Linked DNA regions of Homo sapiens. The protein of the gene in region 2 purifies or fractionates together with the protein of the main gene of each other region. This does not show direct contact. Each region holds a gene or a part of one and is shown on either strand. Other genes may lie near its edges.

The links.
Region 1: the proteins of FSBP (region 2) and CPNE5 purify together in Homo sapiens (co-immunoprecipitation; one large-scale study listed by IntAct). This does not show direct contact.

The regions. Positions count from the first base shown.
Region 1 is NC_000006.12:36,832,726-36,836,544, forward strand, and holds part of CPNE5 (copine-5), read right to left. Parts: intron 1-3,819. UniProt on the Homo sapiens protein: Probable calcium-dependent phospholipid-binding protein that may play a role in calcium-mediated intracellular processes. Plays a role in dendrite formation by melanocytes.
Region 2 is NC_000008.11:94,433,922-94,438,255, forward strand, and holds the start of FSBP (fibrinogen silencer-binding protein), read right to left. Parts: upstream 3,024-4,334; 5' UTR 2,948-3,023; coding exon 2,574-2,947; intron 1-2,573. UniProt on the Homo sapiens protein: Transcriptional repressor that down-regulates the expression of the fibrinogen gamma chain. Represses transcription of GSK3B gene promoter via its interaction with APBA1.

The DNA.
Region 1 (3,819 bases), on a different chromosome or scaffold from region 2:
CTGTTACCTACAGCTGAATCATTCCTACCCAAGCCTGACTCCTCTCTGCCCCAGAGCTTTCCAGCCTAATTCCCCAGCCTCCTCCCTACCCTTTCTTCCCAAGGGTAGACCATCTCGAGTATCGCCTTGAGTCTAAACAGGGTGAACTGTGAGCTGGGAAAGGAGGGATGGTAAACTACTACCGTGCGGTCTGGATGGCATCGAAGGCTGGCTTCCATCCTGTGACTTTTTGTGGTTTCTGCTCCCCAAGGATTCCTCCAGTTCTGGGTTTGCTGCTCAGAACCACAGGCAGCTGTTAGCAAGGAAGGCCTCTCCCATCCCTGGGGAGAGACTGCCTACCTTTTGGTCACACCTACCATAGTTGGTACTCAGGCCTCCACCACCATCCTCCTGGAGAACCCAACCTCCAATCTCAAGAAGCCCTCAAGGTCTTAAGTCTGAGGGAATAGGAGTTGGATCCCTCTCTCCAAAGTGTACTCACTGTGTAACCTTGGCCAAGTCCCTTCACCTCTCTGAGCCTCAATTTCCTAATCAGCAAAAAGAGAAAATACTACTATCTATCTATCCTAGTTTAAAAGACGTAGCAATTGTGATTGGCAGAAATATAAGATGGCCTCCAAGATTCCAGTCTCGTGGCACACACGTCTGTATAATCCCCTCCCCTTGAGAGTGGGCGGGACCTGGGAATATGATAGGTTAGTCACTCATGCGATTGGGTTATGATGTATAACAAAGGCGATCAGATATTCACTCTTGTGATTACAGTTACTTTACATAAGACTCTGTCATAGCAGATTAGGAGAGATTCTCCTGCTGACCTTGAAGAAATGAGCTGCCATGCTGTGAGGGGGCCATGTGGCAAGGGCCTGGGGGTGGACTCTAGGAGCTGAGAGTCACTCTGGTCCAATAACCAGGAAGAAAACAGAACTTTAATCTATCTGCTGCAAGAAATTGAATTCTGCCACCCACCGGTGAGCTTGGAGGAGGACTCAGAGCCTTGGATAAGACCACAGCCCTGCCAATACCTTGATTCCAGCCTAGTGAGACCCTGAGCAGAAAAGCCACTTTATGTCATGCCTGGACTTCTAACCTACAGAAACTAGGAAATGAGAAATGGCTGTAGTTCAAAGCCACTAAGTTTGTGGTAATTTGTCACATAGCAATTGAGAACTAATATAATAACCTTAGTTTGAAATATATAAAAGTATTATGTGAGGCCAGGTGCAGTGGCTCACACCTAATCCCAGCACTTTGAGAGGCACAGGCTGGAGGACTGCTTCAGACTAGGAGTTTGAGATCAGCCAATCAGCCTGGGCAACCGAGTATGACCTCACCTCTACAAAACAAACGAACAAAAAAAAATCAAAAAAAATTTAAAAATTAGCTAGATGTGGTGGTGTGTGTGCGCCTGTAGTCCTGGCAACTCAGGAGGCTAAGGCAGGAGGATCGCTTGAGCCCAGGAGTTGGAGGCTGCATTGAGCTGTGACTCTACCACTGCATTCCAGCTTGGGCAACAGAGACTGTATCTCAAAAAAAAAAAAAAAAAAAAAAAAGGAAGGAAGGGAGGGAGGGAGGGAGGGAGGGAGGAAGGAAGGAAAGAAAAAAAAAACAAGTTGTGTTATTTATTTGAATAGGTTAAAAACAGATGGGCTGGGTGCGGTAGCTCATGCCTGCAATCCCGGCAATTTGGAAGGCCGAGGCAGGCCGATCACCTGAGGTCAGCAGTTCAAGACCAGCCTGACCAACATGGTGAAACCCCGTCTCCAGTAAAAATACAAAACTCAGCCGGGCGTGATGGTGCATGCCTGTAATCTCAGCTACTCAAGAGGCTGAGGCAGGAGAATCGCTTGAACCCAGTAGGCAGAGGTTGCAGTGAGCCGAGATTGGGCCACTGTACTCTACCCTGGATGACAGAACGAGACTCCATCTCAAAAAAAAAAAAAAAGTTGAGTGTAGAAATTGCATACGGTTCAGCCTAATATGATGTAAAGTGCCTAGCATGCAGTAGGCACTCAGTAAATGCCACTGTTATTATTCCCCTAGCTCCACTGACCTGAGTACCTTAGTGTATTCAATGGTTAAATGGACTTCTTTTCCTAGCACTGGCTTTGACAGCTGCCGCCCTCCCCCAGGCTCCTCCCTCCCCCAAACCACCCTCTCCCTGCCTGTCAGAAGAAAGCGCTCAGAGCTGTTCACACCCCTTCTGAGAGACCCAGGGCACAGCTCCTGAGCCGGGCTGCCTCTCTGGCTCCAGGGCAACAAAACGCCAACCCGAACAGACAGCAGAAAACAATATCTCTGGGGCAGAACAACAGCTGCCCACCAGCCCCATACCAGCTGGTGGGGAGAGGGAAGCCAGCAGGGCTAAGCAATGGGCTGCTTCCAGACTCGCCCCGCCGCGTCTTCCCTGGGTCTTGGGAACCCACCATGTGGAACTGTGCATTGCTTCTCCAGCAGGACCCTGCGCAAGTGCAAAGGTTTCTTGTTATGTAAAAAATGCAAATCATTCTTTCTAACCAACATGCTGGGCCAGATCCCTGCGTGGAGACCTGAAAAATAGTGGCGCCTTTGGAGAATGGAACGTCAGACAGGTAAGTTTTGATTGACTCGGCAGGATGGCTCACACAGTCAGGAAGGGTCTAGAACAGGCCATCAGAGGAAGGAAGAGCTCTTGGCTCGAGGGAGGAGGGTCTTTAAAGTCACATTTTTTATGATGTCTACTGGTATCTAGTTCCACAAACCATCTGCCCTACTCACTTCCAAAACAACCCTTAAGAATCTCTAGATTGGCAGGGCACAGTGGCTGACGCCTGTAATCCTAGCACTTTGGGAGGCTAAGGCTGGTGGATCACCTGAGGTCAAGAGTTCGAGACCAGCCTGGCCAACATGGTGAAACCTTGTCTCTACTAAAAATACAAAAATTAGCCCTGTGTGGAGGCAGGCACCTGTAATTCCAGTTACTCAGTAGACTGAGGTAGGAGAATCACTTGAACCCAGAAAGCGGAGGTTGCAGTGAGCTGAGATCGCGCCTTTGCACTCCAGCACTCCAGCCTGGGCAACAGAGCAAAAACTCCGTCTCAAAAAAAAAAAAAAGAATCTCTAGATTGATCAGATCTCCAGGACACACACAGACCCTGGGAGCCAGCTATAGAGGCAAATTTTTATTAACTTCCAGGTATCAAATAAGCAACAACATCAGTCGCTATTCATGGATTACTTCATTTAAGCCTCATAACTGATAAGGATCATTATGCTTTCTTTACAGATGGGGAAACTGAGGCATAGACAGCTTAGTAGCTTACCCAAGGTCATAGGAAGAGAGCTGGGATTTGAAACCAAGGAGACAGATTCCAGGGCTCACATTCATAACCGTTGTGCCAAATAACCAAAGGCTTTCTAATCTTGGGCCCTGAGTTTACCACAGTCAGTAAAAATAATTGTTTGGGAGTATAGTATACTCTACCTGAAGCAGGGGCCTGAAACTGTCCATCCCCAGTGTCATTTGCCTTCAGTGGAGACTTGGCCCCGTGGTGGCCCTGTGCTCTGACTCAGATGTGCACCTGTGCCAGGCAGCTTTGCTTAGCTAGCTGAGCCCTAGGATGGGCACAGCAGGTGCAGGATCCTCCCCTAGGCACAGAGCAGAAGAAGGCTCTGTGGTAGGGGAGTGGTAGGCCCCTTCATGAGGAGGAAGGCAAGTGGAAACAAGTGTTCCTGGGAGCCAGAGGTGGCAACTCATAATCTTCCCTGAAACATTGGCCCCTCTACCCCAGCTGCCCATCCTGAAACCCCCTGGAGTTCTCACCTGCCAGCCCCTCTGCC
Region 2 (4,334 bases):
TACTTACTAATGCCATTAAATTGCCAGAAATATCAGATATTTATCTAAGAGACAAAATGAAACATATATAGTATATAATAAAAAATCTATTTGTAGGTTATATAAATTCATTTTTGTTCTTGTCTCTGTTTGTGTCATTTTATTATTTCCAAAAACAAAACAATTAATTATAAATGTAATTCAAAGTAGCAAGCTCTGCTTCTATTAATAGCTCTGCTAAAACCTGGAATGGGAAAAGGCTAAAATTGCATATGAAAATTAAGTTTTTAAAACCACATAATTACTATTTCAAATTAGTATGTAAAATAGAGAGTATAAACATAGACATAATACTACCAAGTAAATTAAAAATATGCCTCATATCTGGAACATTCCTTTCCATTTTAGCTAAAACATTACAACTAAGGCATAACAATATAAAAAGGGAGAAAAAAAGCTTTAGAGCAGGTCACAAAAATGACAGAGAAGGACTTGAGAATCAGAACTTTGAAGATCAGTTTACAAAAACACAAAATATAAACTGATATTAGGAAGAGGTAAAAATAAAGACATAAGTCAATGTGAGTTACAGAAAATAAATAGCCTTACAAAACAGGTATATATTTTTAAGTATGTTAACGCAAACACTAGTATTTTCCTTATTAAAAAGGAAGAGTTTGGTAAGATTAACAGGCATATTTATGTAGAAGTATAGTTAAGATTATAGAATAATTATAAACTTCTGAGATTATTAAGATTCAAGGATGATATCAATCAAATAAATATAAGCACATTAAATATATATATTAAAGAAATAAGCTAATACAGAGAAAATGTCAATGTAGACACAGTAACATAAGAATTTAAAAGGCATGTTTCTTATATTCTTCCCTTTAAAACCTAACAAATTGGTATTATTTAAGCCATAGGTATAGAAATGTACAAATCAACTCATTTTTATCAGAGAAATGTTCATATCCCAAAAGATTTTTTGTGTGTGAATATTGTAAATATTCACACACACAAATAGTCAAAATGTAACCAGATACTTGTATATTTATATATTATTTTTCTTCTACTCACTGTTATTTTTAAAATATGCAACTAACTAAAATTACAGTTTCTACATGTCGTTTTCAAATTATAAAAACCTATACCTACTAACCAAAGGGTACAGTTTTATACCTGCGATGCAAAAAACACTTTTCTCCATGGTTCAAGGGAGAGAAAATTCTGCATAAGTAGCACAGTATAAAACAATTTTACTGCGTAGTTTTCTGGATATCTAGCTATTGGGATTTCATCATTTGTCATCACAGTGAACATTTTAACCAGTGGCCCCAAGAATTAATCCACTGTGTATTCATGTCCTGGATTCCCACTGGTGATATTTTTTTTACTGTGCTATCAAGTAGAAATAAGCAGTATCTGGTAAGAAGCTAGGCTCAAAAATACTTTCCTAGTAAATTACCAAAATAACATATGCACTTGGCTACAAAGTGGTTTTTTTCTGCTTCTCTCCTAATTTCAAAGGGATTTCATAGTAATCAATAATTTGCTTATATAATGCCTCTTCCACCAATAGAAAAGCACATTGTGTAAAGCTTTGTTTGAAAGGCTCCTCAAACTAACAAGGAGTTTACAATTTGTTTAAATTACCCTAAATGGTTCAGAATAAGAATGTAGCTGCCATTTTTATATTTTGCCAGAGGTTACAATCTGAATTAGTGGCAAGATAATACTTTTGAAAATTCCAAGGCAAATAGTTACATAGAAGACAAGTTTAACCAAAAAATTGCTTCTAACTCTAAAAAAACCCAGTTGCTCTTAGGGGTATTTTAAAATTCATAATTTGATATCCTTGCAAAGCAGTAAGAGAAAGCTTACTCTTTCCTATACGACCCAAGATCAAAGTGAAACTAGACTATTAAGGAATAAAAACAACAACAACAAAAAACTTTTAATTTTATTAAGTAAACTGAATCCCTAATTAGGCATTAACTCCCTTTAGTTGTGTTCATCTTTATTTTAAACGTGTTAGAAAAATAATTTAAACTGTCTTCATATACACAATCATGCCATTAACAAGTTTACTTATTGATTTTGTTTATATTTGTTAGTTAACATATATTCAATAAGTGTAGACAATGACAATTCATAAAAAAGCAAGGTTCCATTTCTCTAGAAACTGCTAACTTTATATAAATTTTATATAAAATTGAAAATTCCAGTGAAATGTAATCTTAAATGAGAAAAAAAGTATCTCTCAGAAGCAAACTAAATAATTTAATTTTAAAGCTTAAGAAGTTTATGAAGTGATGTCACAAATTTCAACCCACTTATTCCTCCCTAACCTTTACTTTTAGAAACTACAGGAGGGAAGGGGGAGGGGAAGACAGTAAAAAGTAGCTTAAATGCAACAGAAAAATTCCTCATAGCCTCACTTTTCTCTTTTTAAAAAATGCAAAACAAAGACACTATTCATTGCTCCCGTTGTGGGGATGCTTACTATGCATATCTCTATCACGACTAAGCCAAAGCCCAATAGATAGGAGGCGCCATAATTTTCCATAACAAAACAAAATAAAGCTTACCTTTGTATGTGGTTCCTGTCTCTTACCAGGCAAAAACTGGAAATCTGGGGAATCATCTCCATAACTTTCTTGGTTGGCTCAGAAATATTGCTTTTAAAATCTGATTGGGTCTCTTTTTGCTGCAATAGCTCCTGTTTGGCATATTCTTTGAGCCTTTTATAAAGGGTGCGTAGGCCCTGTGCTGTTCGAGGAGGGCGGTCTACTCCAATTGCATTATAGTTAACTGCTATGATATCCCAACATCTATTCTTTTCTACTATTACTGAATGTTTATTAGTGTGTTCTTCGAGAATTTTCACATATGGCTTCACAAGCTTTAGCAAATCAAGCTTTTCGGATAAGGTAAAATTGGAAGATCTAGCCTTTCCTACCATTGTTCTTTTCAAATTAAGTAGGCAGTTTCTGAAACCACCATGCAGCCTTCAGCTCTGCTCAGCTCTTTTCACAAACAGAAAAAGATCAGGCTTAACTAGGCTAGCCTCATTTAGGCCCACGCCTACAGGGGAGGGTTTATTAAAATTCCTCCAGCTTAAGCTGACGCAGGTTCAGGAAATCTGCTTAAGCCAAGCCTGACCTACATAAAGCTTCTCACTGAAGAAGACAGGAAGGCACAAGCAAAACACACTTGTGTATAAAGGGAACAGCTCGAGACAGGATTTAATACACAAAGGTCTAGAGATAAGCATGGAACACAGCTAAAAATTAGCTAATTTAGTGAGAATATCAAATTTCACACATGTATGCCTAGCTGACAGACTGAACTGCATTGCAGTATCACTTTAATAAAAACAAAAGAGGAACTGTTTTGTGCTATTTATTTACAAATCCAGTAGACAGAAAACTAAAAGATATGAGTAGTGAATGTAGTAATTCCTAACAGAGCCTCTCATCACTGTTTCTGAGCTGAGTGTTCTCCCTTACAAAATCTGCATAATGCTGGATCTGCTGTCAATCAGGAATTGCATATCCTCTAGCTAGTTAGGTTACACCCAGACCCAGACTCCACAGTAAAGCTAAGCTTCTCCTTCATTTTACAGTCTACATTAGCCTCTGCATATTTTTTTCACTTAAGAAAAAATTTTTATAGAACACTCAATCTAAAAAGCAGGTAAAAATCATGTTTTTAAAGCAATGGATTATTCTAGCCGTAATGTATGTGAATTTGCTAGCCTGCCTTATCATGTGTAAAAAATCACTGTTCATGGTGAGAAACAGTATAATCACGCCTTAAGACTCCACATACAAAATCACATTTGCTATTATAATAGAGCCAGATTTTTTATTTAGCTATATTCACACAGTTTGGACTATGAAAGGAAACAGCTAGTCTAGCCATTTTCAAGGCCACCAGTTTCGGTGCTTAGAATATATTTGTTAACCCCAGTATGAAAATATATGATACATAATAATGTAAGCAAGACAAACCTATTTTCTCACAATATACATATTTTTCCAGATAGGGGAATAAATTAGAACATACTTGAACATAGTTCTATCCAATAAAACTATTACTGAACAACTGTGATAGTTATTAAGAGGTAGGAAAAATAAATTGTTTTTAATTACTGACCACGTATATAAATGCTCCCAGGCACTGTGCAAGACCCAATGAAATCAAAAATGAATCTAGATACAGCACCTATCCAGGGAACTGTAGTTCCACAGAAATGCTATAAATTCTCAATTATCTTGTTTTTCATTCTTTTAACAATGGAGAAGCAAATTACATTTACTGAGCTCTCACTGTGAGCCAATGTGTTA